Regions from separate parts of the Homo sapiens genome. Here region 2 is linked to region 1. The links come from fine-mapping of genetic effects on gene expression. A gene starts in region 1. The other region holds a variant in brackets. All regions are shown on one strand. Distances are between the middles of the regions.

What was found.
Region 2: its variant is fine-mapped to the expression of LINC00862 in whole blood (TOPMed, PIP above 0.99).

The regions. Positions count from the first base shown.
Region 1 is chr1:200,366,444-200,382,023 of GRCh38, forward strand. It overlaps LINC00862 (long intergenic non-protein coding RNA 862), which reads right to left and starts at 7,349. Exons shown (of 5, transcript NR_040064.1): 1 at 7,204-7,349; 2 at 6,650-6,726; 3 at 4,603-4,722; 4 at 2,222-2,428. RefSeq lists enhancers at 5,703-6,233, 7,630-8,829, 14,329-14,378.
Region 2 is chr1:200,402,235-200,417,814 of GRCh38, forward strand. It overlaps ZNF281 (zinc finger protein 281), which reads right to left and starts at 7,802. Exons shown (of 2, transcript NM_001281293.2): 1 at 7,712-7,802; 2 at 2,717-7,489. The coding sequence starts at 7,471. The coding sequence ends at 4,784. RefSeq lists enhancers at 7,051-7,628, 7,629-8,206, 8,207-8,784, 8,331-8,380, 9,056-9,662 and 2 more and a silencer at 7,811-7,990. The variant A/C (reference allele first, on the strand shown) is at 7,501.

The sequences.
Region 1 (15,580 bases):
GGGTTGTAGGCTGGGAAAAGACCCAGAAGGGGATTTTATGCTATGTGAGGAGTTTAGAATTCAAAAGATGCAAAAGGGAACAAACAATGGGGGGTTTTTTGTGTTTGTTTTTGTTATTTGGGTTTTGTTTGTTTTTCTGTTTGTTTTTGGCTAAAGAAGGAACAAAGATATCTGTAACTGGTTGTGATCAATTAGTTGTAAACACTGTTGCACTTGACCAGCCCCAGCCGTGGTTTTTATGCAGAGGAGTCATAGGACCAGATTGGTATTTTAGTAATGCTCGTGCCAGGGTAGAGAATGGGTTGCACAGAAGGCACAGGGCTTGACAGATCAGATCAAAGGCTGTTGCAACAATCCAGGTTGGATCCAGTCCAAACTAATGGTGTGATCCTGCCATTAAAAAAAAGGAACTCACTGGAGAAGTTTCTGAGGTTCGGGGCATGAGCTTTGGAGTCAGGTGGGCTGAATGCTGGTTCTCAACCTCTTCTTAGCCATGTCTGTAACGTCATCAAAACCTCACCTTGCTTATTTCATATGAGATGAAATCTGCTGTCTGGGTCATTTTGCAAATGAAATTGGGGTTCATGCTCAACTGCACAAGGTTCTCACTCCATCAGTGGTGACAGTGATGATGATGATGATGATGATAATGACAGACAATACTTTGGTGACTGATTGGCTTTAGGCTGAGGGTAAGTGACAGAAGAGTACAGGATACCTCCAAGGTTTCTAATTGGGTGAGTGAAGGCACACATTGTCAACCGGGCTGGGGGCACAGAAAGAGGACCTGGTTTAGAAAAAAAAAAAAAAAAGTAGTGCATTTGGTTTTGAACATGTTGTGCTAAGGACACCTACCAGAATTTGTTTTATGAACAGTTAGTTGGAAATACAGATTGAAAGAGGAGTCAGGGCCGGGCTTGGTGGCTCACACCTGTAATCCCAGAACTTTGGGAGGCCGAGGTGGTCGAATCATGAGGTCAGGAGTTCAAGACCAGCCTGGCCAACATGGTGAAACCCCATCACTACTAAAAATACAAAAAATTAGCTGGGCATAGTGGCGGGCGCCTGTAATCCCAGCTACTTGGGAGGCTGCGGCAGGAGAATTGCCTGAACCTGGGAGGCAGAGGTTGCAGTGAGCCAAGATCGCGCCACTGTACTCCAGCCCAGGCGACAGAGTGAGACTCTGTCTCAAAAAAAAAAGTAAAGAAAGAGGAGTCAGGGCTAGAAGTACAAATTCTTGAGCCATTTGGGATCATGTCTGAAGCTGTGGGAATGAAGTTTCAGGGAACACTAATACATATGGCATATTGAGAAGAAACCAGAGTAGCAACGATTTTGTTCAAAATGAAAGCTCTGATTCAGGATTTTCAGAAACAGAGAGCCGTTAAACAAATGTACATTGAGAGCAAACTACATGCCAGGCACTGTCCTGGAGCTGGAAACTGGAACATACAAGCCAACCCATGGAAAGCTCACATTGTCACAGAGGAGACAACCCTGTAATAAACCTGGTACCCCAAAAGAGGGAAAACACCATGAGGGAAGTAGGCAGGGTGCAGGCAGAGGGTGAAGATGTTGAATGCCTGGGGGAGGCCCAGGCTAGCTACAGGGGCCAGGTAAGGCCTCCCTAGGAGAGGACATTTGAGCTGAGACCTGAGACTAGGAGAGCATTAACTGAGGACTTATTAAGTACAAGGCTCTGTTCTAAGCCTTTTAAGTACATTATCCTATTTAATCCTTACAACAACCCAATGAGGTAGGTGCTGTTATTATCCTCATACTAAAAATAAGGAAACTTAACCACAGAAATGTTAAGTAACTTCCCCCACACAGCTAGCAAGCTGGCACAGAAGACCCTGACTCAGACAGTCTAGCTTCAGACAGCCCGTGCTCTTCCCCGCTGCACAAACTGCCTCTCACTGTCTGTGATAAATGCTCCTATTAATAGAAAATGAGTTCAAGAAGGAAAATGCGATCAACAGTGATCACAGTGGTTCAGAGCACAAAGGCTTCATCTAGAAATAATTTTAAGTGCTTGGTCTTTGCTATGTTACTACTTAAAGTGTGGAAGCTTCATAGAGAATTGGTCAGTAGCCCCAGATTCAAGTGTCAGCTTCGCTATTCTCTAATTTCGTAACCTGCGGACAGACAAGTAATGACCTCTACGAACCTTCATTCTTTTCACCAGTAAGGTAGGTCTAATACACAACTCCAAACTTACCATGAAGATAAAGAGATTCAATCCACATACATGACAATCTCTAGCAGACAATGTTATCTTCAGGAGATGGCTGATGCTGGGGAAAGTTTCCCAGTACAGATAGCACACCATGACGTCTTCGTAAAAAGATGAAGCTCAGAGCAGGTGCAGCACTGAAAACAGGACACTTTAGGTGACAGCCTACAGACTGCTATTCTGAGAAAAGATCTTCAAGGGGTAGAAAAAATCACTTTTAGAACTCCAACTGGTCTTATCAATTTTTAAGGAAAATTAAATTTGTCATATTTGCCATTGTGAAAATCAGCTCAAATATACAACAGGAAAGCTTATTTCACTGAAACTCAGTTCATTCCAGACTCAATAAAAAATGACAGGCTTCTTCTGTGTTCTACCTTTTCCTCCTCTACTTTCCTCTTTCCAGACAATAAAGTATTGTCCCTTGTGAGGTAGAAACAAAACAGCAACATGAAAACAAATTCTAATAGCTCATGGGAAGGACAGACATCATGATCCCAAAGTGCTATGTTAAATGCCTTAAGAGGCACCACTACTGTGCAATGGTGGTCCAGAAAGAGCGCGCCCAGCCAGCTGGATCAGGAATGATTATGAAGAGAGGATTTGATCACGGCTTTACAGGGCTTTAAAGGGCAAACTACGGTTTCCTGCAGTGGCTTTGGTAGAGAGCATCCACAAGGCCCTGAGAGGCATGGCTTTGCCTGCCTTTGTCTCCTACAGCATCCACCACTCTCCTAGCCCCAACTGCCAGCCACAAGGGCAGCTCTGCTCCTCTCAGGATCCTCTGAGGCCACCCCTACATGCAGGGATCTGCACTTGCTCAGGATCAGAAATACTTCTGGTCTGTGAATGAGCTTCACACTGCTGGTCTCAAGGGGAATATAACCTTCTCTGTAAAGCCTTCGCTGAGCACCTGCCCCTCTAAAGTTCCCACCTGGACATGCCCCACATCCACCCCCGTCACTCCTCCACACAAACTCATTAACATTCTATTTTACTTTCTTTATAGTACTTATAAAGTACTATGGAAAATTATCGTGCTCAATTTTTTTACTGGATTATTTTCTGCCCATCCCCATCCTCTGCTAAAAATTGTTAAGTCCCATAAATGCCTAGATATGGTCTTTCTTTTTCACCCTTATATTCCCAGCACCTGGCAGGAAGTAAAGAGCTCAATAAATATTTGTTGAATCAATACAGGAATGCAGAAGAGCATGATCAAGTTGCAGAGGCAGAAAAGTAAAAGCTGAGTTTGAGAAAGTGGTAAGTTGCACGTTCTGGTCCAGCTGGGCATGGATAGATGAGGTGGGACAGGTTGCTTGCAGAGGACTTGGGGCAGTTTGGACTGAGTAGATAGTGCAGAGCTTCTGAGAGTGTTTGACCAGGCAAGGCCCTGAGCAGTGCTGTCCTTAGAAAGGATTAGGCCAGCAACTATGAATAGGATGAACTGAAATAAAGCTAGAAAGCCCAGGGAAAACCATTTGTTACCCCTAAAATTGGCAAAGATTAAGAAGTCTGACAAGTGTTGGAAAGTATCTGGGGAAACAGTTTTCCAACAGTTGAAAATCAATTTGGTAATATCTCTTAAAAGTTAAATTGTGCATATTCAAAATGTAGCAATCCTGCATCTAGGAATCAAGACTAAGAAACTATTGCCTATATATTAGTGAAAAAAATATAAACAATCATATATTCACTAATAAATGGACTGATAAAATGTGGTATTATTTATGCCATGAAATGCTAGACAGCAAATAGCCGGGTGTGGTGGCTCATGCCTATAATCCCAGCACTTTGGGAGGCCAAGGCGGGCAGATCACCTGAGGTCGGGAGTTTGAGACCAGACTGGCCAATATGTTGAAACCCCGTCTCTACTAAAAATACAAAAATTAGCCGGGCTTGGTGGCAGGCGCCTGTAGTCCCAGCTACTTGGGAGGCTGAGGCAGAAGAATTGCTTGAACCCGGGAGGCAGAGGTTGCAGTGAGCTGAGATCGTGCCACTGCACTCCAGTCTGGGTGACAGAGCGAGAGTCTTTCTCAAAAAAAAAAAAAAGAAAAAGAAAGAAAAGAAATGCTAGACAGCAATTAAAAATAATGAATATATATATATAGATGGGTGTGTGTGTGTGTGCACGTGTGTGTGTGTCTGTACAAAAACATGGCTAGACCTTAAAAACAATGCTCAGAGAAAGTAAACAAATCATATAACAGTTGGCTGGGCATGGTGGTTCATACTTGTAATCCTAGCATTTTGGGAAGCAGAGGCGGGAGGATCTCTTGAGGCCAGGAGTTTGAGACCAGGCAACATTGTAAGATCCCATCTCTACAAAAAAAAAAAAAAAATTAGCCAAGCATAGTGGCACAAACCTGTAGTCCTAGCTACTTGAGAGGCTGGAGCAGGAGGATCACTTGAGCCCAGGAGGTCGAGGCTGCAGTGAGCTATGATCATGCACTCCAGCCTGGGTGACAGAATGAGATCCTCTCTCTCTAAAAAAGAAAACATTTATGTATATTTAAATCCATAAAACAATACTACATATTAACTATGGGTACATACAAATATATATAAAATATTAAAAAGTATACAAACTGAACATGGGCTCTGGGAAGTGAGGACAGAAGGAGGAAATGGACTTGGAATTAATATTCAAAGGCAACTTGATTTTATCATCAATGTTTTGTTTTATTTCTTTAAAAAAATTGAAGAAGATATGACAAAAATAATAACAGTTGTTAATTTTGAATGATGGGAATATAGTAGCGTTTACTGGGAATCAGAAGAGAGATGCTAGTCACAGATGGAAAAACTAACAGGATTTCAGGACTGGGTGGGTTAGTAGAGGGTATAAAGTTGCCAGAAAGAACGAAGAATAAAAATTATATTCTTTCTTTTCTTTAACAATGAGAGGCTAGCCACACCATTAAAAGAACTAAAAAACAATGAGCTCCACTTTAGAAAGGTTTGTCTTATTAATGAGACAGCCAAATCATGGCCAGCAAAAAGTCAGAATTCAAAAACCCAAGCTGGCACTGACAAGCTATCCTGCAAAAGTAAGGAATAAAATAGGTGCCTCATTCAATATCCTCAAAAAAAAATTTTTAAGACTTTTTTAAGGTCCATAGAGAGTTCACTTTGTGTATTTGGCTTGTTTACAACATATATAGAAACCCAACCACAGTGTCCTATACTCAACAATTGAAAGTGAGGTTACTAAATTTTAATACACATTTCTAGAAAGCCTGGGGGTCTGACTCTGAAAATAAGCCATTCTAGTAAGACAACTTGTTAAGAGTTTCCTTTCAGTAAGCAACATCGACTAACAGAGCAAACAATGATCCAAATTTACACTGTTCGAATTAAAATTTCAAGCATTAACCTCTATTTTGAAATCAATCTCCCTGTCTTTACATAAAGATTATCAACTTCCAATTATCAGAAGAATGCAGCTTATCTTTATTAAAATGTACCCCCCCAATATTTCATGATATTTACATGTTTGCATAGTACTTTCCTATCCTTTTGTAACATGTTTTGCAACTCCTGAAAAGTCAATAGTCTTAGCTCTTCTCTAAAGGGGGAAACACAAGAGACTGAGTGACTAGTTCAGGGTGACTCACAGGCAGAGTCAACATTGGAACTCGGAACACTGAGCCTGGCATTCCAAGTTCCCAAAACCTTGAGGCTCTTGCTAATCCCAGCAGAATTTTCTTCTTTACAGGGCTGTGCTTCTTTGAGGCCTCTGAGACTAGAATGTTAGTGTCCAAAGCTTTCTCTTTCAAAAGTAGTCAATAGTCAGAAATAAATGTTGGCCTGCAAGTTCAATCTTTTTCTTTTTTTTGAGACAGGGTCTCACTCAGTTGCCCAGGTTGGAGTGCAGTAGCACAATCATGGCTTACTGCAGCCTTGACCTCCTGGGCTCAAGCGATCCTCCTGCTTCAGCCTTCCAAATAGTTGGGACCACAGGCATACCCCACCACACCCAGCTAATTTTTAAAATTTTGTAGACATGATGGTCTCACTTTGTTGCCCAAGTTGGTCTCAAAGTCCTGAGTTCAAGGGATCCTCCCACCTTGGCCTCCCAAAGTGCTGAAATTACAGGTATGAGCCACCGCTTCTAGTCCATCTTCACTTTTTAAAAGGCATAGCTAAACTGCATTGATACAACCTAATGATCTCCCTAATTAATGTAACTTTGCTGGTAATTGTTTTTTTAGAGTCCTCTGTTTAAGATTGGGTTAAATTCAAATCAAATGGTACTGTTTAAACTGTTTGCTGTTTTTTGTGTTTGTTCCCCGTTAGTGCTATCTTGGACATGCTGAGCTTCTAACTGCCACAGGGCTGTTTTGCTACTACTGACCTTATAAAGCCAACAGTTAGTGACTGTGTATATAAGGATTTAAGAGATTATTTTACCAGAATAAGGTTGCTTTGTAGCCATCCGGTGTAAATGGTGTTTCTTTCCATTAACAAATTGAAGAGCTCTTAAGCACCTGAAATTAAATAACAGCTTAAAAAATAAATTAATATACAAAAAATTTAGGTTTACTGACAATATCAGATTATTTCCCATTAAAAAAAATCACCCAACTCTTTTTTCTGATGCCTTTCACGTGGGACTTCAAAAAGCTTTTCCAAATATTTTCACTATCTGTAGTTCTCATTCTAATTTTGTAAATTAAAAAAAAAAAAGAGCCAAATAACTGACCCAAAGTTATGCAGTCAGTTGGTAGTAAAAGCCAAATAAGAGCTCAAATTTAATCTAGTCGTTAGAATCTGCCACAGTGTCCTCTTCGCTAAGTTGTACTACTGCCTCATTTTATTTCCCTTAAAAAATAATTGTTTGCATATCAGTTAAACTGGTCACATTGAAATATAAAACACGCCAGTATTATCAAGAGGTCCTTTCTTAAAGCAACAAAATACAATCACCTTTGTGCTAAAAATAAGCTATAAAAATAATTGTGTACCTTATAAATTTATCTACAAGTTTTAGCCTTCATTATATTCATTAATTAAACTGCCATAAATCTTCCTTTCCTATTGCTAAGATATTCTTAAACTTGCATACAAAGCACCAAAATGCACATCAGCCACAACACACACAAATTCATCACTCAATCTCGGTCCATTACTCTTGCCAAGGTCAGTATAGAATATTCTTGAAATTTTCACTTGTAGAATGAATAGATGTTTTGTAAGGATTATCTATTCAGGCAGAAAAAAAGGGGGGAGGGGAAGAACACAAGAAACAATTAGCTATTCAACTGGTACTGAGCAAATTCCAAGTACGGAATCCTTTGTTTGTTTTTATCTTGTTTTTGTTTTTCTTACCTACCTTGGGACTCCAGTCCACGAGAAGAAATACATCTTGTGAGATTTTTGTACAGCCTTTCTACAAACCTCCGTAGAGAAGGAGACGTTGTTGTCAGTTTTGGCTTCCTTTTGCAGTCAGGGACTGGGACCCAGAGTTATCTATTTGCATTTCAACACCCTTCTTTTGTTTTCGGTCCCACAAGAGGCTCAACCAGTTCAAAAGCAGGTAAGGCAGTTAGATCATTGTAATGACCCTAGAAAACTCAAAGGAGAAAACTTTTGCAAACAATGTGGTTATTTTAGCAAAAAACTACTACTTATTTCATCAGTCAAGCCTACAGAGCTCAAGCTAGACCATCTTGTTAAAAATTTACCTTAGGTTGTTCTTAATTCTCTCTGTGCCCTAGAGAGAGAAGAATGATGGTGGAAAGCAGGGTTAGAGAACAGAGAGGAGGAGAGTTCTGCATCCAGAATCTCTTCTGAATAAACAAATATCGCTAAAATATCCAAATATTCACAGGAATTTACAGGTCACATTATTGCATTTGATTCTGAGAGCAACAGCCTCTGTCATTTCTGCTGAAGGAGCATTCCTATATAACTCTAACAAAATTAAGAGAAAAGAATACTTTCTAGGTGGAGAGAGTTGGAGAGGACGGGTAAAGGTGCAGCCATCCCAGTGTCTGAAGGACACTCAGACACAAATGCTGCTGGTGTATACTTCCTGTCACACCCACTCAGATGACTACATGGTCAAGATTCCAGAATGTGATCCCGACGACAGCTTTCTAAGCATTTAATATTCCAAGAGGCATCAGCAGATAAAAATGTGCAGAGTTGCAAATTTTTAATAGAAAAATCCCCCAGGGTCTATGTTGAAGGTCAGTGTTTGGGAAAAGGCTATATTATAATGGGGCTATGGAGTCACAGATTAGAGACGGAAGGGACCATAAGGTTCATTTCCTCAAGGTCCGTGGTTACACAGCTGGTTTGTGACAGGCTATGAGCTCTCTGGGGTCTCAATCTCACGCTCTTGAGCTTTTGGTTACCAAACCTGCTTAGATGAGATCCACAGTGAGGTTATATTGTAAAAATTCTAAGACTTGGCAAGTCAGCCTATAATGAAGATATATATGCATAGACTTCAAAGGACTGACCTTGTCATCACCTACAATAGCTCTGCCGCAAGATTACTGATTCAGGCATTCAGCTTTTGGATAAGCATCTTTCCTTCCAACTTGCATGACAACAACTCCAACTGCTCTTAGAAATATTGGGGCCTCCAGTCTATTGATCCATCTGCTTTCTCCCAATTCATTAGCCTTCAGCTGTTTTCACTTTCCTTCTTACTCAATTTTTATTCCATGGTCTGTTATTACTATATCCTTTTTGCCAATCCCTTAAACTCCCTTCCTCTCTGTTTTTTCTACAAACCTATCTAGGAAAACGACAGCCCTCATTGAACCCCGCCATCTCCTTTCTCTTTGCTTGCACGCAACAGTCAAACTCTGCTGGAGGTGATCAAAAGCGTAGATAGGTTCATCATCACCAACTTCTTATGGGCCCTCAATACTAACAACTACATTTTTGTTTTATTTTTAAGAAATGGAGTCTTGCTCTGTCGCTTAGGCTGGAGTGCAGTGGCATAAACACAGCTCAACGCAGCCTCCATCTCCTGGGCTCAAGAGATCCTCCTGCCTCAGGATCCCAAGTAGCTGGGACTATAGGCACAAGCAATCATGCCCTGCTCTAACAACTGTGTTACGTTTCTTTTTTCAACTTATTTTCCAAGAATTATTTGAAACTTTCTCCATCACCCGCAAGCTTCCAATACACCCATCTTTCTCTCTTTACTCCTTCATCTTCTGCTTAGATGAGGATTCTCTAGATCTTTTTCCACCCAGATCCCTGCTTTCCCTCCTGCTTCAAGGTGAGTGAGACTCCTCCACAACAAGGGAAATCCCTTCTCTTTGGCCTTGTATTCTCTTCTCTCATCATCACCCACAACCTTTTTGTCATTTTTTTCTCATATCACATCATTTTCATCAGAAAAGCCTATTGGTTCTGCCTTCAAAATATATCCAAAATCCAATAATTTATCATCATCATCACTCCTACCCCCTCATCGAAGACATGGTCATCTCTCATCTAGACTATTAATGGTCTATCAACTTTCACCATTGCCCCCTTACAGTCTATTCTCAACAGTGATCTTTCGAAATCATAAGTCAGAGCATGTTCCTCCTCTGCTTAAAACCCTCCAATGGCTTTCTATTTACTCAGAGTAAAAGCTGAAGTCCCTACAAAGACCTTTAATACCCTACCAGCACTGTCCAGTAGAACTTTCTGTGGCAATGGAAATGATCTACATCTCACTGTCCAATACAGTAGCCACTAGCTACATGTGGCTACTGTGCATTTGAAATGTGGCTAGTGCAATTGATAAAATGAATTTTTAATTTTTAAAATTTTAATTAATTTACATTTAAGTAGCCACTTGTGGCCAGAGGCCACCATATTGGAACACTCAGCTCTACAAGATCTATTCCCCATCCACCCTATCCACCTCTTGCCTGAGCCTATAAAAGCCCACAACACACTATAAAAACTCCTTTGAAGTCAGATGATGTCACTCCTCTGCTTAAAAATCTCTATAGTTTCCCATTTTACTCAAAAGCCAAAGAAAGTCCTTATCTTGATTTACAAGGCCTCATATGATCTGGCCACCTCACCCATCTCTCTGACCTCAGCCTCTAGCTTAATCTCTTCCTTGTTGACTCCACTCCAGGCACAACATTGCCCTCCTTAGTGGAACACATCAAGTATGCTATTGCCTCAGGGCCTTTGCTCATGCTGTTTTCACTGCCTGGAACATTCTTTTTCCCAATATTCATATGACAAACTCAGAGCTCCTTCACTTCCTTAGTAAGCACTCTGCTACAAGTGTCTTCTGATGAGAGGCTGATCTGACCTTACTTGATCTGAAAGTCCTATCCAAAACAATTCCCTCCCACTTGATCACTCTCTATCTCCATACTCTGTTTGTTGTTGTTGTTTTTAAGTAGAGAAGTAGTCTCACCATGTTGCCCAGGCTGGTCTTGAACTCCTAGGCTCAAGTGATCCTCTCACTTTGGGCTCCCAAAGTGCTAGGATTATAGGCATGAGCCAACATGCCTGCTCTCTGCTCTTTCTTTATAGCACAGATCTCCATCTATGTTTCTTTACTTATTACTTGTCTCCATCAGCAGGGGCAGCATCTCTGTTTTATTCACAGCAGTATCCCTAATACCTGAAACAGTACCTGGCTCAGAGTAGGGTCACAAACACGCACACACACACACACACACACACACACACACACACACACACGGCTGAATTTGATGAGTGAATACACATGGCCCTATGGTGCCAAAGACTATTTACAAGTCTCAACACTGGTCTACAACCCAGCACTCTCCTGCTGCTATTCCCTGGGGAGAGGTTGGGACTGGGTTCCTCTCTAAGTATAGTATCCTCACTTGCAAGAGGGCAGCTGGGTGCTTAAACTGTATCAGCTCTAATCTTCACCACAATCCATTTTACCAGTTTGGAAACAGACAGGTTAAGTAAACTACTCAAGCTCAGCTAGAGTGACCCTCACCCTGTTTCTTATGAAGGGGTTTCCACAGTCAATAGAAAACTCTTCTACAGGCAGCTACAAAGATATGCATTGAAGTGACCACATAGCTTCATTATAAATCTCTTTACTGATTCTATGCCTTCATAGGGAAAAATGAGAATAACTACTTTTATAACAGACTAAATGAAAATTAATTTCAGAGAGTTTATAGAAAATGGCCAGGTGCAGTGCCTCAAGCCGGTAATCCCAGCACTTTGGGAAGCTGAGGCAGGTGGATCACTTCAGGTCAGGAGTTTGAGTCCAGCCTGGCCAATATGGTGAAACCCCATCTCTACTAAAAACACAAAATTTAGCTGGGCATGGTGGCATACGCCTGTAATCCCAGCTACTCAGGAGGCTGAGGCAGGAGAATCATTTGAACCCAGGAGTCAGAGGTTGCATGAGCCAAGATCGCGCCACTGCACTCCAGCTTGGGCAACAGAATGAGACTGCCTCAAAAAAATAAAAATACAAAATACAAAAAGAAAATGAATGTTATTTCCACTTTCATTTTTACTCCTCCCCTAACTGGCCTAAGTTTTTCTTACCAAATTGCCATTAGATTTTCAAAATGCTATGCTAAATAAAATACTGTTGGCCTTCATGTTTGAAAATGATGTTGCTGAGAGTGCTATTTTTTAAGCTAGAATTTTTACAGTCAGCAAATAAAGTAATGGTCGGTAAATTCAAGACCAGTTCCACAGAATAGATTGACTTCCTTTTAACCTGCTGGGCAAGAGTGAATGCTATTTTTTTTTCTATGTTTAACATATTCATGAGGAGCAGGGATAGAGTAAGTACATTCAAGCCACAGGTAGTCAAAATAATTTTTTGCCATTGGTTTTAATTATATATGCCATGATATCTTCTGGTAGAAATGACAAACTATAAAGATAGGTTTGTGCTTCACATCCTATTCTTTTCCATTGTTGCCTGACAGAAGCCCCAATGAATAGGGAAATTACATCCTTGGCTACAAAAATGGGCATGCAATTAGAATCATCCAACGGACAAAGAACCTAAAAAATTTTAGGGATTTTGGCACTCCTGTTTCCAATATCTTTGCTTCTTAGAAGGAAAAAACTCAAGTCAAGCAATTTGCTGCAAAGCACAGACACTGTGACACATTCAGCAAGGACCAAGGTGTCCTAATTTCCCTGCAATCAGTGTTTTCTTTTTTTTTTTTTTTTTTTTTTTTTTTTTTTTTTTTTTTTTTTGAGATGGAGTCTTGCTCTGTCACCCAGGCTGGAGTGCAATGGCATGTCTCAGCTCACTGCAAGCTCCGCCTCCTGGGTTCAAGCGATTCTCCTGCCTTAGCCTCCTGAGTGGCTGGGATTACAGGTGGATGCCACAACACCTGGCTAATTTTTGTAATTTTAGTAGAGACAGGGTTTCACCATGTTACCCAGGCTGGTCTTGAACTCCCGACCTCAGGTGATCCGCCTGCCTCAGCCTCCCAAAAGTGCTGGGATTACAGGCATGAGCCACTGCACCCGGCCCAGTGTGTTTTCTTCGGAAACCAATGATTATCCTCCAATTGGTCTGGAAGAGAGAGAGAATCTCCACAGAAAACCTGCATATAACTCTTCTGGCACTGTTCACAGTTAAGAATTGCAAATTACTTTACAAAATTACTTCTCTCAAAATACCCAGACACCTGGCCACAGACTGCCAACCTAATACTAAAATAGGCACCTTGATCAGCTCACGCTGTGACTTTAACCATTCAGCTGCATTTGACCACAGCGACAGATATCTTTGCCAAAAGAAATATGAAAAACTCTGGGAGCTGATTGCAAAATTGGGATTGGTCCAAACTTTTCCAAAGTGATGGCTCTGTTGTCTGGAATGTCTCACAGCCAGGACATTTTTCTCAACACGTCAGCTCTATATAATGAAAGCAATAAGAAGAAAATCAGATGTGCACAGAGCTTTTCTCTCTCTGCCTAATATGGGAATAATAATTAACTGTCCAAAAATGTAAGCACTGGCTCATGGCTGATGATTCACCTTTAAAGTTGTGCAAAGAAAAAGGCCAAACCTTTTGCAAAGCATGTATCAGTCATAAAAATGTCTACTTCCTTTGACACAGTAATCTTATTGCTGGAAACTGATCCTAAGAAATGATCCAAAAGAAAAGATGTTCACTACAAAATATGAATCAACCTAAATGCCCAATAATCAGAAAAATGTTAGCTATAGTACATGTTTCTAATGAAATACTATATTATCATTAAAAATAAATTATGAAGACTGTCACAATATACAGAAAATAGAGGATGATATTAAATTGAAAAGCAGAATACAGATGATATATGTGCATTATGAATATAACCATGTTCAAATATATTTGCACAGAGGAAAAATGGAATAGCAGTATTATGGGTGTTTTTTCTCTTTTTAACATTTTGTAATGTTGATCTACTGTTTTATATGTAGAGAGAGAAAGGGTCTCACTCTGTTGCCCTGGCTGGAGTGCAGTGGTGCAATTATAGTTCATTGCAGTCTCGAACACCTGGGCTCAAGCAATTCTCTCACCTCAGCCTCCTCAGTAGCTAGGACTACAGGTGCCAGCCATTGTGCCAGGCTTGTTTTAATCTTTTTTTAAGTTATGTACAATATTTCATATTCCTTTCTATACAATAAACCAGCACATAAATAATTTTTAAATTATCTAAAATAGCTAGCTCATTTCAAATATTTGTCCTTTAAAAATTATGAGCAGGACACTTGCCCAACATTTGACAACCAGCAGAATATCCATGCCAGTTTTGCTTCAACCCCTCTGACCACTCCAAAGTCAACATAGATTCACCTAAGCCCAGAATATAGTCGGATCAGAAAGGCACATGGCTCTGCCCCTGAAAAACTCCTGGCTCAGGCCCTCCCCTAAAGAAACCAGCCAGGTGGTTCCATGGGGATCTGGGTCCCGAGCCTCTACTACTATTTCCAGGGAAGACCTGGTTTGTGAAAACCTCTGGGTCTACTTCCTGCAGCCACCCTTGTGCTCTGGAAGGCAAGTAAGCCATTTCAATATGGACTTTGGATCCTGGACCCAAAGGTAGAAAAATACACAGCTATGAGGCCTTTGTTTTGATGTTTGTTTCTCAAAAATGGATTTTTTCACACCCAGTACATGTGGGGAGCAGCTGTTTTGTAGACAACCCTACAGATCTCCACAGAAAGATGAAGAGGTGGGGGCTGCCCCACTTGCTTCTGGTCTGCTACCAAGAAGAGTTAATCATCTCCCCAAATAGTGCAGGGAATGAGTTTTAACCTTGAATATACAGGCTTTGCGCTCACAGATACTGGTCATTAATGTTTATGCATGAAAGGTGACAGTTTTTGTTTGGTATACAGAGCATTGAAAAGGAAAAAGGAACTACTAATTTCTACAGGTTTCATTGTCTTGAGATCAAATATTCATAGCAACTCAGAAATCTGTCTAGAGAAATGTAGCTATTGCTAAGCTAATGCTTAGTAAACTCAAATAGACCCCATTTTATTACTGATATATATGAATTATATTGTTTCAAATGCATGCTTTTATCAATAATTCTTCAAAGGAAAAATTTTTAATTTTACAGAATCTTTTTTTTTAATCTATCAAGCTTTTTCTAAACCATCATACCTATGTTGCTCAAAAATTGTTGAGACCCGGGGTCAAGGAGACATTCACATTGGCTTTCAACGGAAAATGTGCTTCTCTACACTAAAATGGCCACTTAAGCAAGACTGTGGAAATGATTTATCTCACAATGTTTAAAGTTGGATCCTGACTCCAGCTATGTCATGACTGCACAATCAGTCAGAGACAAGTAGTTACACGCTCCTAAATAAAGAAGAGCACTCTAATGGCCAAATGAGTTGAGCATCTAACATACTAAAATTACCTTAATAAAAGTTAAATTACCCACATCCAAAAGAATACAAAAATCACTCGCAATAATAATGTTTAAGTGTTAAGAACAGCAGAACATAAAATAGATCTATTTACGTCACATAAATGTTATCTTCGCAAATTGGTGTTAAGCAGTGATATTAGCAGTATATAAGTCAGAAAGTAAGAAAGTAGTATATAAGTCAGAAAGTAGCAGTATATGAGTCAGAAAGAAAAAGAAAAGGAATCAAGCGGTATAACCAGAGGCTATCACATGAGAGCATAGATTGCTGTTTATTGTTCACTGTAGTATCCCCAGGACCTAGTAAGTTCTGAATAAATATTTGTTGAATGAATGAATGTATGAATAAAGGAACAGAGCTCATCAAAACAAAAACGCAATTTGTGTTGTAGAATTATAGGCCCATGCATACTTGCTTTAACAAGTCAGAAAAGAGACTTCCCAAAAATAACATGTTTGCTACTGACTATA
Region 2 (15,580 bases), 36 kb after region 1:
AAGTAGTTAAACTGCAGATAAATCAATTCAGAAGCACCCCTAATATTTGATGATTTTCTTAGGTTTTAACTTCCTACTTATCTATACAATAAAATTTCAATATTTAGGATGTCTTCTAAATTCTTAACCTAGGGTCCATAACTAAGAATTTATTTGAAAGTTGGAGGAGGTCTTGTGAGCATGTAGACTGGCTTGCACATTTTCATTTGTTGATATATCTCTGCTAACGTACAGGGGGCGGGGGGCCATCAATTTATATCGGGTGCCCAGAGTCTGTGACCCAAAAAAAATGTTACGCTGGACTTGTATAAGTAAGCCAAAGATTCATAAAGAATTTAAATATAGTCTATTTAAATTAGTCACACTCAAATACAGTCAAGCATAAGATAACAGAATTCTAAGATGCTGTGTTCATCCTAATGTTCATTTTAAATGTTACCAAGGATATAAAAAAATAACGAGAATACAATATTTTCCCTCACTATCAGTAACTGTTTATCATTTCATGGAGGGTACAAGCAGATTGGTAAACCACCACAGATCCCTCTTCTTAAATACCAGGAGGGATCCCATAACAAAATATTCATGGAACATTACCATCATAACCTCACGCAACATGATGCATGGATCCTATCATAGCACTAACAAAGGAGTCTTGCATCACATTTTAAAAATGAAATCCTATCAGTATGTATCATAGAAAACACAAAGACCATAAAACTCAGAAAATGATAGTCTTCAGGTATGTTTTACCCTAAAAGTAGAAGTTCAGAAACTATTTTTGGTGAGGGAAGTTCTTCTGCTTAACAAGAGCCTATGAATTTGGAAGGTAAAAATTCCATGTGACCTCATGAAGCCATATTGCTCAAACTGTCACCCAGTTCAGGCTTAAATGCTACTAATGGCAAGTAATTACAAAATGCCAGATGACAGGAATGAATACAAACTTTTGCCTCTCTCATCTGATGAGCATAATACGGAAAACTAAAGTAGAAATATTTGTATCAGTTTGCAACTTTTTAAAAACATGCTAAAAATTATAGATGTTTTTCCACTGTTCCCATTTTTAAATTACCTCAAAAATACTGACCAGCAATTGCTAAATTATGGTAGTCCTTATTCTGAATTTCCAGTAGCACAACAGAAATCCAAAAGCATTGTTTCCTACTTCATACCTTAACTTCTTAAAAGTAAAAAAAAACCTTAATTTTAAAATGATCATATTCAGAGACAGACATTCCACAGAAGAAATAAAGGCAGGTGGATGGGTTAAAAAAAAAAATCAATCTGTTAGGGCTAATCTAGAATAGAGAATAAGTCACCTGTGCAAAGAAATCAAAAATTGGATTTCAATATAGAATCAGAGATTCTGCTTAGCACTCTTGTTCAAGAAAAAGACCAAATCTAGGAAATACACTTGGGCAAAACAAACAAAAACTGACATTTCCTAATCACAGACTCGCCAGTACAGATAATCTCTACAGAGAAATCCATGCTTATACTTAATATCTTTATGATTTCCTGTAATACTATCATATACTAAAAAGAAAACAAAGCCTCAAAGACCTATTCTACCCTTTAATATATTTATTCCCAATTCCTCAACACTGTAGCCACTAAATTTCAAAACACAAATGTCTTATGATCTACTTTTTCCCTTCATACTTATAAGTTTACTAATATATTACATATTTACTAATTTTCAGTTTCTGCATCTCCATTATTTATAGGTTTAGCTCTTTCCTTCTAATACTTATACTCTCAACATTTTAAAACATTGCTGATTTAATAATACCTTCATCCTAACTAAAATGCTCAAGACTGTTGTAATCTAAATCATACTGTCACTTTATTACAACTTTTTAAGTAAAAAGTTTTTTTTCCCAAAACTGGTGCCACAGGATATTACAACATTTTTGAGGCAAAAAAGGATGCACCTAAAACCAGAAGATATTGGAATCTGATTTAAAATAAAGCCTCAATAAATAATTTCTCTGGAGTAATATTAGGATGGCTAACCCAATTTCAAGAAAACATTGATTTATATAATATTAAATTTCTATTCTTCCATATTATGCACCTAAAACATATTCAACGTTCATAAAGTATTCAATGTTCATAAAATGTTGAATGTTTTCATAATGTCATAAAACTGAATATTTTATGAACATTGAATATGTTTTAGGTGCATAGCAATATGGAAGAACAAAAATTTAGTATTATATAAATTTGAATCCTTTTTTTTTTTTTTGAAACGGAGTCTTGCTCTGTCGCCCAGGCTGGAGTGCAGTGGCACAATCTTGGCTCACTGCAACCTCCCCACCTTCTGGGTTCAAGCAATTATCCTGCCTCAGCCTCCTGAGTAGCTGGGACTACAGGCACACGCCGCCCCACCCAGCTGATTTTTTGTATTTTAGTAGAGACGGGGTTTCACTGTGTTACCCAGACTGGTCTCGAGCTCCTGAGCTCAGGCAATCCACCCGCCTTGGCCTCCCGAAGTGCTAGGATTACAGGCGTGAGCCACCACTCCCGGCCTTGAGTCCATTTTCAACTAAAATAAACCTAGAAACACAAAATACCTAAGTTAAAAAAATACAATTAAAATACAAGCCTCTAAACTGCAGGTTATACCACGGATGTGAATATTTTAGAAAATGTTAATAGAAAATTCTGAAAAACGTTACTGGATATTAAGTAATATCTCCTTTCTTCAATCTTGTGATTAACAGGACTTTTATTGGTAGTAAACTAGAGCAAACAATCAGAATAATACATATGCAGTATTCAGTACACACAATAAAAGTTAAAGAAATTCAAAACCTGTATAAAACAAACTGGAGAAAAATCATACAGCTTAAGAGATACAGTGGTAAAGGTCCTCTCCATCCTTTGATTACAGCTTGTACTCTGTACTCAATAGAACTTACCGCACTTACTGAAATAAGAAATAAACACTTTTTAGTACTCAGCGTATTTAAGATTAAGTACATTTTCTAAGAATCTTGCAATGACAAGTTGGTGACCCTTTAGCTGCTAAAGCTAAAGGGAGGAAAGTGGGAAAAGGAAATTAACTAATACTTTGTAACCATTTTTAATATTTCTTATTTTCCAAACACTGCTTTTATAACAGAAGTGTTTTACACTTGCACAATATTAATTACTTTATTATACATGGAAGCCTGCGGTAGGCTGATTACACAATAAGACTGCAAACAACCAGTGGTACTTTTCTGACGTCAGAAGAGTACATAAGACTGAAACATCACCAAAAGTACATAAAAAACTCATCAGCATAAACATCAAAGTACATTAAAAAATATAATCAGGAAAAAAATACAATTGCTAAAAAGCAGTTTTAGAGTAGAGCCACTGCCAATCAGTAGCTTCAAATGGCAATTAGAGTTCATAGCAAGTTTTGATGACTTTACAAGACCCCTGTACAATACTAATGCACCCTTTCATTAAAATGTACATTAAAGGCCGCAATTTCACAAAGAGGTTCTGATGTTATTACTATAAGCAGACACATTCTTATCCCTCACAGGAGTTATGTCACCAGTTGGAATTACAACCTTATTAATATCTATCCAAGAACACGGGGTTTTATTACATATGGAAATCTGTATGGGTTTTTTTTTTTTTAAAGGTGGGTTTTGGGGATGTTTACCCTATTGTTTTTTATTTGGATGCCCTAAGGCATATAAAGCGCATAGTGAATTACCTACTGGAATGTAAATGGTTCTAAAATTAAAACTGTTAAAATAGAAAGAGGGAAAAGGAAGGCCCAAGAACTCTTAAAGAGAGGCTGAGAACAAGAACAAAAAAACCCAGAAGTGTAGGTAATACGTAACAGCGCAGACAGAACCGTTGTAGGCCATGTATAATAAATAATGCATGCCCCAAATTTCAGTTAATCATATAATTTCAACTTGAGTTCTAATACTGGAACCAGCCAACCACTTGGGCTTCAACACTGTACTAGATGTCAGTAGAATCGCTTGATGGAATTACAGCCTTGTTACAGTTGAGATCAAGAGAGGGTGCTTTTTTTTTTTCCTTCTTTTATTAAAGCTATCATTCCAGGCTTTGATCAAAGATCCAAGAATATTTGTTCTACCAGGCTGGAATGAATGTGGTTTGGAAGTTCAGAGTACATTTAAAAGCTGCAACAAAATATAGGTAGCCAACAATCTCAGAATTTTGGATCAGCCCAGATGGAGATAGCAATTTGAAATGTCTTCGATCCCTTACTTAAATGACGAAATGTCTATCAGCCCAGATAGAGCAATTTGAAATGTTTTCGATCCCTTACTTAAATGATGAAATGTATATCATACTATCTGTAAATTGGATATTCCATTACAGTGATAACGTACAGAATTCCCATGCGTTATTACACTTTCCTGAGAGTAAAGCAATTAGAATAACCTTAATCCTAGCAACAAAGTTTTTTTTGTAGGTTTTTTTTTTTTGGTTTTTTTTTGTCTTTTTTTTTGCGTTTAAAACATTTGGGCTATTCCCTGACGATCTATACATGTAAATTTGATTGCTAAACATTGTCACTTTGAATGTCAAACTATTTTTAATCTATTGATTTTGATTAAAAATCATAATACAAACAGAGCTAAAATCACGCTAACAAAATAAACTAAATATGAAAAGTTGCATTGAAAGGGCATCACATTATTCTTAATAGGATCGTGTAGAAACATTCCAATGGCAGTGTTCTCAAAATAAAACAAAATTACATTAGAAGACCTCCAGCCTGGCCACTTTTGGGACCTTACCTGTAACTCTGGCTGGTGGGTGTCTTTACTCTTGTACTACATGGCTCACTTACATCAGACATCATATTTGTATACCCTGAGAAATCTGACACTGAAGTCCTTACTCTATGGTCCACTTCTCCATTAGAGTTAGTGATAAAGGTCATTGGCACCCTGCTGCCCGACTTAAACTGAGAACCAAACGCTTGTGCAAAGTTCTCAATCTGATACGTTGTTCTAGGCTCTATGTCTTTCTGAGGATCTATCTGGCTAGCTAACTCCTGAGATGGAATCTGAAAGCCTGTTGAAGACTCTAAGTTTTTCTGTTCCTTCTGGCTAGTCAATTTCTGAGATGAGGACTGGAAGGCTGATGAAGTCTCTAAGTTCTTCTGAGAATCTATCAGATCATCCAGCTCCTGGGAAGGTGTCAACTGCTGATGTGTAGCATCCAAAGCAGACAAATAAAGACCTGGCTGAGATCCAAACAACATCCCAAAAGGAGGCTTTGGCAATGAAGATGGCAACACTGAGGTAACAGATTGGCCGAAACCACACTCCAAAGGAGACGTAGTGTATATTTGTTTTTCTGGAAACAAAGTGTGGTTGTGGAGAGGTGAAGACAAACTGACAAATTGGAAACCGTGTCCAAGAGTAAAACTTGCATTAGTGGATTTTTCAAAAGCCTGTTGGAGGTATTTGGAGTATTCTTGCAACATACTTGCTTTATCATTTGAAGGTGTTTGGGTGCCTGGGCTCAAATTTTCTTCTTGAACCAATTCTGAGTGTTCTCCTGAGGTGTGTAAATCCACTCGTGGTTCTGCAATATTGAAAGGATCCTCTTTCTGGCTTTCTGATTTGTTGGAGTATTGATCCAAAATACTTTGTAAAACCTCATCAGGAATTCCAGACTTGTCATGACAAGATTTAATTTCAGCATTTAGAGCTGAGGAGTCAATAAGTGACAATGGTGCCTCATTGTCCAAAACACTGACACCTGCAGACTGAATGACAGACTGTTGGGAGACCATGTGTCCTACGTTTATAGAAAAGGCACTGTTGCTGCTGGCAGTTGGTAAATATCTTCTTTTCTTTGAAAACTGCATGGCATCATCATAATTACTACTTATCTGACCTTGTTTGCCACTTGTACTTTGGAGAAGACCAATGGTCTCCACACTATTATTTGATACTATGCCAAGTGAGCCACTTGGTTTTCCAGACAAGGATTTCTGTCCTACTATGTCTGGTAATGGTGACACAAAGTTAAGGTAGTTTTTATCTGTATTCTTTCTGCTTCCTTTCTTAAAGATCAATTTTGGCACCCTCTTCTGCAGTTCATCTATTCCAGTGCCAATTATGCCTCCACTGGAAGACACGGTAGGCATTTCTACTGAGTAACTCTGCATGTTTATATTATTTGAAATTTGCGATTCATTTGTTTTACCGGTCTTCTGTTCCTTATTTTCAATAGCTATGCTTTTTGACTTTGTTTTTCTCCTTGAAGAACTTGTATTTCCCTGAGACAACACAGCCAGATTACCCATATTGGTATGGTTTGATGACCCAGGTTCTGCACTAGTGGCTCCTTTAACTATGACTTCACCACATGTGCGCCTGTGCTTCAACAATCTATCAGTCCTTGAAAAATACTGTTGGCAAGTGTCACACTTATATGGCTTTTCTCCACTATGTGTCCTCTTGTGTCTCTCCATATGGTACTTCTGAATAAACTTCATGCTGCACTGATCACATCCAAATGGCTTCTCTCTACTATGAATTTTCTCATGTCTCTGTAGTAGGTATTTCTGAATGAAACCCATACTACACTGGCTGCACTGGAAAGGTCTTTCTCCTGTATGAATGAGGACATGTCTCCGCAGGTGATAGGAGCTTCGGAAAGCAGCACTACAGTGATCACAGATATGAGGTTTCTGACTTGGGGAGAGGATGGCACCTTCTCCATCTCCAACCAAAGAAGGTTTGGAAGATGCACTTGGCTTCCTCTTGGCTTTGATTCCCTGAGATTCTGGCTTTGGCCTTTTTGCCTTTTTGACATTAGTGTCCTGCTTTGGCTCCTCAGTGCCATGGTGGTCATCAGTCCTGCTACTGCTGCTGAGTAATACGTCACGGTGGTGCTGGGCTGGTTGCTGCTGGACATGCTGGTGGAGAATACTGAGGTCCTGGATGACGCCGTGACTCCCCCCTTCACCGCCTCCTAGGCCTGGAGACCTCTCTTCAGCTCCAGCGAACAGCCCCCCATAGTGGTGGTGGTGATGGTGGTGGTGGGACTGCTGCTCCTCAGGATCCGCGGGTTTCTCCTGTTTGATGCTAACCAAAGACTGCAAGAACCCCCAGGAGGTCCTCTGCGAGGGGAAGGCCGCGGCTGACGCCGCCGGCTCCTTCTTGAAAGTCATGTCCGGGGCTGGCGGAGGGGGGGGCTCAGCGGCCGGGGCTGCGGAGGTAGAGGAGGATAACACGCATTGCGGGGGAGGGGCGGCCGACCCCGCCGGCCGGGTGAAGCTGGTGACCGGGGGAAGACGGTGGTTGAACATAACCATACCCTGGGGAAAGGTGGGTTCCATCTCTGCCCTCCTGCCGCTGCTGCCGCCGCCGCCGCCGCCGCCACTACCACCGCCGCCGGAGCCGCTACCACCGCTACTGCCGGTACCTCCGCCGCCACTCAGGAACCCACTGCCGATTTTCATACCCCGGAGGAGGCCTGGCTGAAGAAAGG[A/C]GGAGGAAGAGGGAAGAGGGAGGAAAGGAGGTGGAACCGGGCCCCGGGCCGGGACCACCGCAGCGCTAAGGACCCCGCCGCGCCGCCGCCCAGACCGCAACGCGCCCAGCACTAATTCCCAGCCCAGTCGCCTCCGGCACCGGCACGCATGGTCCTGCGACTCTTCCCCAGGCCTCGCCCTCTCCCTCCTGGACCCACCGGCAATACTTACGGGTCCCGCCGCCGCCGCAGCCGCCGTCGCCTCCAGTTAATAAAAATAACGCCGTCCTCTCCACAATGGAATTAAAAGCCTCCCGTGTACTGCGCAGCCGCGGCGCAGTGTCTGCTGGGAACTCCTCGACCCGGCCAGAGGGGAGGGCTAAGGAGCCAGGGCGCCTGCGCCGCAGCTTCCGCCCGGCCTGCCTGTCAATCACTGGGGCCGTTGGGCGGAGGCGGGGGAGCAAGGGCAGGGGAGGCGGGGATTTGGAGCCCTGCTAAAAAGGGGCTTTCGAGGCGAACAGGCGTGATTGGTGGGCTGCACTGAAGGAGATGAAAGTGGTTGAGGGTTTCTGGGGGAAAGACGCTCAGGAGGTGGAACCCAAGGGGCGGGAAGTTACGGGGGACTGTACTACAGCGTGGCGTGGGAGATGCAGAGAAAGGGGCTGGAAGAGAAGGTGAGGGAAACTGAGGATTCAATGTTAGGGCTTTCTTCACTCTAGGTTTTGCAATCCAGGTCTTGAAATAAAATTCAAACCTAGAAGTGGATCATTGAGGGCACTTTTGATTCTATCAAGAAGCATTCAACTCCAAATGCTCAACATTTATTAAAACAGGTGCTTATGTTATCCCTTTGAATTTGGAAGCACTAATAATGGGCGCATATCCTTTGCATTTATGGGAGGAGCCTGCTTTGAAACCGCAATTAGTGGTACCGTTGCAACAAAAAAAAAAAAAAGAAAAAGAAAAAAACTTGTCTTACTGCCAACCTTCCTGAAGGCTACTGGAAGAGGAAACCGAGCGTAATCCAGGTGCAGCAGTCCTGTAAAACACGCCCACACACATACTTCATTATCATTACATCTTATTTAAATGCCCCCGTACCTTAGCCTGGCTAATCAGTCTGTTTGCCACGTTATGAATGCCTGGCCCTTTATATTGTTTATGAAAAATTAACCACCAGGCCATTCTAAGAGCTCTGCTAGGATCAACTCTTTCCTCGCCAGTACAGAATACCGAGAAACTCATTGCAAATTTAGAAATTTTTCTTGTAAGGGAAAATTATGAAGTAAAATCTTAAAATCAAAGTTATATCAACAAAATCAAACAACAAATATTTATTCAGTGTCTAATGTACACAAGGCACTCGATTTCATGTTAAGCATGCAGAAATCTAAACCAGACACTTTCCTAGCAAAGGATATTTATAAATGAGAAATTTTAAATAAAAGAACTAGAACTATGACAACAGCTTATTTACATAGTATGTTTTCTTAATGAAGTTACATGTACATCACAATGTTTCTAGCTAAATAACTTCTCATAATTAAATAATAAATTCTCTGGGAAATTTCACAATCGAAACCATAGGGATTATTTACTAATACTTATGGACCTCTCTCAGCCTGCCCTAAAAATTTTACAGACAATATTTAATGAGAATTTTGAGATAAGAAGAAATTGCTTTTTTTCTAATCCCATGAAACAACATGTAAGTATTCCACCACTTAAACTGACACTTTAATACTGTCAAGTATAGTTGTGATATTGTGAAATATATATTTGGACTTTGAACCGTTTTGTGGCATACAACTGCTAAAAATCCTTGGAATCTGCAAAGTAATAAATGTCTTTTTGTATGCTAATGAAGCGACTGATGATGGCTGGCAACCCCTAGGTAGCTTCAGGATGGGGGCTGGTCACCGGAAAGACCAAGGCAGGATTAGAGTTTGGGACTTTCAGTCCCACCCCCCGACCTCCGGGGAGGAGAGAGGGATTGAAGGTTAAGTTGATCTTCAATGGCCAATGATTTAATCAATCATGCCTGTGTAATGAAGCCTTCATAAAAACCTAAAAAAGGACGGGGTTTGGAGAGCTTCCTGTAAGCGAACCCGTGAAGGTTCCAGGAGGATGGCGCACCCGGAAAGGGCGTGGAAGCTCCGCGCCCCTTCCCACAGACTTTCCCCCATCCATCTCTTCATCTGGTGTTCATCGATAGCCTTTGTAATGTCCTTAATAGTAAACCGGAAAACGTAAGTGTTTGCCTGGGTTCTATGAGCTGCTCTAGCAAATTAATCAAGCCCAAGGAAGGGGTCATGGGAACCCCGATTTACAGCTGGTCAGTCAGAAGCACAGGTAAAACTACCTGGGGCTTGTGATTGGCATCTGAAATGCGGCCGGCCAGTCTTGTAGGCCTGGGCTCTTAATCTGGGGGATCTGATGCTGTCTCCAGGTAGGTAGTGTCAGAATTGAATTGGAGGACACCCCAGTGGTGTCTGCTGCAGAATTGATTGCTTGCTCGGTGTGTGGGGAGAAACCCCTACACATTTGGTCGCAGAAATCTTCTGTGTTGATTGTTGAGTGAGAGTATAGGAGAGGCTGAGTTGTTTTTTTGTTTTTGTTTTTGTTTTTTTCTACAATAGCTAAGTGTTAAAGACTGAAAGTTCAAAAACTTAAGGCAGTCGTAAAATATTAGTCAACGCCTGTGAGAAATGAGGCTGTCCCTTTATTCAGGGTGTCAGTGTTTAATGGTAAGCTGGGATGCATATAAGCTAGTCCAAGCATGAAGGGCAGTAGGACACTCATATGAAAAGCCAACTTTGTTCCTCAGTTATCAAGATAAGAAACCTGTCATTTCTCTCATTCACTCTGTCAGCCTTGAGATACTCCAAGCAGACTTACCTCTGTGTTGTACACCCCATATATCAGGAAGATGAAGAGACCCTGTAAAATAAAATGGAGGGGAAAAGCTGTTAACGCTAATCATTTCAGCAGTAGAAATACCTGAAATAAACTTTCCTGGGAACAGACAAAAGAAGACACACTTCATCAAGGTCAATTTATTTTCCTATTTTTCAACATTAGAAGGTGTACCTTGAGCATTTATATGATAACATAGCAAGCACATCACTTATAATGGTTGTGCTATTCAATTCTTTAGAAGTACAAAATAAAAATACCATCCCAAGTACAAAGAATATTAATTAGAAAAATCAATATACCAGTTCTGAAAGATAGCTGGGTAATGAAAAAATTAAACTCAGGAAATGTTATTAAAGTAATCATAGAAATAACACTAAGCATCAGTATTTCCAAGCACTGTTTTAGACTGTAGCAACTAGAATATATTTGTTACAATCTTCAACAGGGTTAAAATTAAAAAAAAAAAATTATAAAGCAGCTAAAAGAATAAACTTAAGGTAATAAGTATGAATAGGTTTTGAAATAATACTTGAAATACCAGCTCGAGATAAAATTTCACATTACCATCTGTTGTGAACTGCATACATTTTTATTGTAATCTATATATGTAACAAATATTCCAAAGATGTTGATTAGTCTTTAGCTTTAGAAAATGCTTAATTAATTAGAAAATATAAATTCACTTTTAACTCTAAAATCTTAACTTTTAAAAGAAAATAAAACTATATGCTTTAAACTTAGAGAAAACAGACAGCAAAAAATTTTCACTTCAGTGAGGAAATAAAAATCTACATTGTAGTATTCTTGTTAGGTACTAACAAGCCAAATATTAAATAGGAGTCTGTACTAAATCTAGAAATGGTTCAAATAGTTAAGTAATATGATTCTTTCAAAAGTAAAATATTAAAGGAATATTTTAATATTTGTTTATCTCTGAATGCTTAGATTTTACAGATAATGGAAACAATCCCAGAACAAAGAGATTGTATAAAACTAGTGATTCTTGTTTTTATTTAGTTTCTTTTTAAATAGACTTTGTTTTTTACAGCAATTTTAGTTTTACAGAAAAATTGATAAGATAGTACTCAGGCTGGGCACGGTGGCTCTTGCCAGTATTCCCAGCACTTTTGGAGGCCGAGGCGGGCAGATCACCTGAGGTCAGGAGTTCAAGACCAGCCTGGCCAACATGGTGAAACCTCGTCGTTACTAAAAATAAAAAATTTGCCGGGCGTGGTAGCACATGCCTGTAATCCCAGCTACTAGGAAGGCTGAGGCAGGAGAATCACTTGAACCCGGGAGGCGGAGGTTGCAGTGAGCAGAGATTGCACCACCGCATACCAGTCTGGGCCACAAGAGTGAAACTCCGTCTCAAAAAAAAAACAACAAAGAAAGATAGTACTAACAGTTTGCATATATCCGATACATCCCCAGTTTCCTCTATTTTTAACATTTTACATTAGTATGGTATATTCATTATAACAAATCTAATTCAATACTACTACCTTTATAATTTCTGAAACTAAAACTGTTGCAATACATACATTTGTTTTAATAAGAATGATTAATGAAGAGTTATGAACAATAAACAATTTCCATTTTGATAATAAACTTTTAAAAATTCAACTATAGCTACACTTTTTTTTACTGTGTATACACGATGTCCCAAAGTTCAATACCAACACTCACTTTCCTCCTTCCAGTAGCCTTGGTCAAGATCCATTTAGTGCAGACTAAATTCAAGCCACTCAGTACTTGAGTTTAGTACTCATTTTATAGGCTACTTGTTTGCTCCAATTCTGGATAATTCTAAATAGTTAAGAAAAAAAAATCTTTTTTCTGATTTATGTAAAAACTCTAAGATAATTAAGAGTCCCTCTTCCCTCAATAATTGTTAATTTTTTATTCCTTATTTTGCTGCATAAATAAAAATTTAAGAGTAAGTCATTCAAATTTTAATTCTATTTATGAGATAGGAATATTTTGCTTTGTACAATAGATGAGTTCCTGAACAAATAAAATTTCCTGAACAAATAAAATTTCCTGAACATTGAACAACATGCATTATTATTTCCGTATAAGAAACCCAGCTGTTTATGTGAAATCTATATGATGCTTTGAAAATCAAAGAGCTAACCAGGTGCAGTTGTTCACACCTGTAATCCCAACTCTTTGGGAGGCTGAGGCAGGAGGACTGCTTGAGGCTGGGAGTTTGAGACAAGCCTTGGCAACATAGCAAGACCCTGTCTCTACCAAAAATTTAAAAGTTAGCCGGGCGTGGTGCTGCATGCTTGTAGTCTCAGCTACTCAGGAGGTGAGAGGATCACTTGAGCCCAGAAGTTGGAGGCTGCAGTGAGCTATGATCGCACCACTGCTCTCCAGTCCATCCTGGCAACAGAGTGAGATCCTATCTCTAAAAAATAAATAAATAAAAAGAAAATCAAAGAGCACTTTAATAATGGTATAATCACCCTTGTAATTTATCTGTCTTGTAAGTTTTATTTTTTCCCCACGTTTTGGTAAACTGAGAAAGTAGAGTATGCTTCATATTTTTATTTACTACACTACCACGTTACTTATTATACATTTTTAATTTTAATACATTTAACCTTAAATGTAAAATGATCACAACAAAAATATTCCTTTTGAAAATAGGATTTAGAATTTAAAAGGATTTTAGATACAGGCAGCTTCCATCTCAAAAGCTTTTTTCTCTTTTTGCCTGTCCTCAACAGATGTACACCTAACAGCATGGTAAGGAAGCCCCAGAAGGATGTTTCTAAAGACCATGAGGGAGTCTGAAACCTGAAATCATGCCAAGGACTCTCTGCTTCTCTTTCACTTGGGGTGTCTATCTGATGCTGCCACAACCAGTTGAAACGTATAACATTAACAATAAAAATTAGTTTTTTTGTAACTAATTTTATGCCCCATAATTGTATGCCCCACACATGATGTCTTTTTTCTCCATTAATTTTACCAGGTATTCACAGTCATGATCATTTAGATCTAATGCCACAGAACTTCATAAACCCTTTACTACTAGAAAAACATCCTATTTTCTCAAAGGGAAGAATCACAACAGAAACAGCTAAACATAAACATCTTAAGCCATACTATGAGCCACTTTTAAATTCCTGCAGAGAGGATACCTTTAAAAACAGCTGGAAGGAACCAACTGCCAAACTTCAACTGGCACTGTGATTTCTGGAACTCCTTATAGCAACATTCTGTCCTACTAAAGAGTCAATACTGAAAGTATGTCACATTTCTGAATTGAATGATCTCTCATGTCTGTTAGGTGGTTTCTACTATTCCATTTATAGAACAGTTCATCTGTAATGTATTAATATATGAAGTATTTTCTATAGAGGTACCTATTTCTCAATGCTTTAGTCACAGTAAAAATAACATTAATTGGGCAGGAAGCATCCAAAGTGTAGCTGGATTCCTGTAGCATGCGTGTACTTTATGGGCAGGGGCCAGGAGTTGGGAAAGAACACCAGGATATTACATCTGATACTGTACAGAAGTTAAAAATAGAAACTAAGGGAAAGAGAAAAAAACATTCTTGATGATTTCATTCTCATTTATCTATGAAACATTGAAAACTGAGGCGACTTTGTAAATATTTACACTGTTCTAGAAGTCTTGAGCATTATCTGCAAATAGATTCAGTGGTTGACATCAAGTCTGTTGTTATATTGATCTGTACTTTTACAGTACACTTCATGATTGTTACAGAATCAATCTTTTTTAAGTGGTAATATTTTCTTTCTTGGCAACAGAAAGAACAGGACAGGTGCCCCATACATAGCACATTGCCTCCTCAGGAATAAGAATAGTATTAACAGTGCTAATATCTGGATAGCTCTCTCAAGCACTTTCATTTACATAAACCCATTTGTTCTTCACTACAACATTGCAAAGGAGGCAGTGTGAGTATTATTAGCTTTATTCTTATATATGGGGATTTTGAGGCTTGCTCAAAGTGCCACAATGCTGACAAGTTGGCAGAGCCAAGGATTACTGTTTGACTCCTAATAAATGCTCTTTCACACACATTGTCTTAAATAGACACCTTCATAACTCTTTTTTTTTTTTGAGACGCAGTCTTGCTCTGCCGCCCAGGCTGGAGTGCAGTGGTGTGATCTTGGCTCACTGCAAGCTCCGCCTCCTGGGTTCATGCCATTCTCCTGACTCAGCCTCCCGAGTAGCTGGGACTACAGGCGCCCACCACCATGCCCGGCTAGTTTTTTGTATTTTTAGTAGAGACGGGGTTTCACAGTATTAGCCAGGGTGGTCTGCCCGCCTCGGCCTCCCAAAGTGCTGGGATTACAGGCGTGGGCCACCGCCCCCAGCCAACAACTTCATAACTCTTAAGTCACTAGCTTCAAGATAATGCAATTGGTGAGACTTTTCAAAGCTCAAGTTTATTAAAAGCATATTGCAGTTTGATTAGCTCATAGGGTTAGGGACTCAGTATTTAGTAATAGGGCTTCAAGTAACCCTGGTCCTCCACCTAGCAAGTACAACAAGAAATGCAGTTGGTAACAATGATTTTCAGTAGCTATGGGCCAGTTTCTGCCTCTTGTACTTTCCTTATAGATTCTCATTCAATGACGTATACTTTCTGGTTGCTGGGAAACTTACCTTTTGCCATCAAAAAAAGGCTGCTAGGTAACCGTATTGTCAAATATTCTTATTGTCATCATTTACTGAACTTTTTTGAATGTATGTTACTATGCTGTGTACTTTTATGTATTTACAAATCCTGTTCCAATCTTTCTTTTTTTGTTTGTTTGTTTTGTTTGTTTGATTTTGGTTTTGTTTTGAGACAGAGTCTCACTTGTCACCCAGGCTGGAGTACAGTGGCATGATCTCGGCTCACTGCAACCTCCGCCTCCCAGGTGCAAGCAATTCTCCTGCCTCAGCCTCCCGAGTAGCTGGGACTACAGGAGCCTGCCACCACACCCAGCTAATTTTTTGTATTTTTAATAGAGGGGGTTTCACTGTGTTAGCCAGGATGGTCTCAATCTCCTGACCTCGTGATCTGCCTGCCTCAGCCTCCCAAAGTGGTGGGATTACAGGCGTGAGCCAGTGCACATGGCCCCAATCTACTTTCTATAAACAATTCCCGCTTTGGGGATTACATCCTATAGAAACAAAAGCGTTAGTGTGAAGG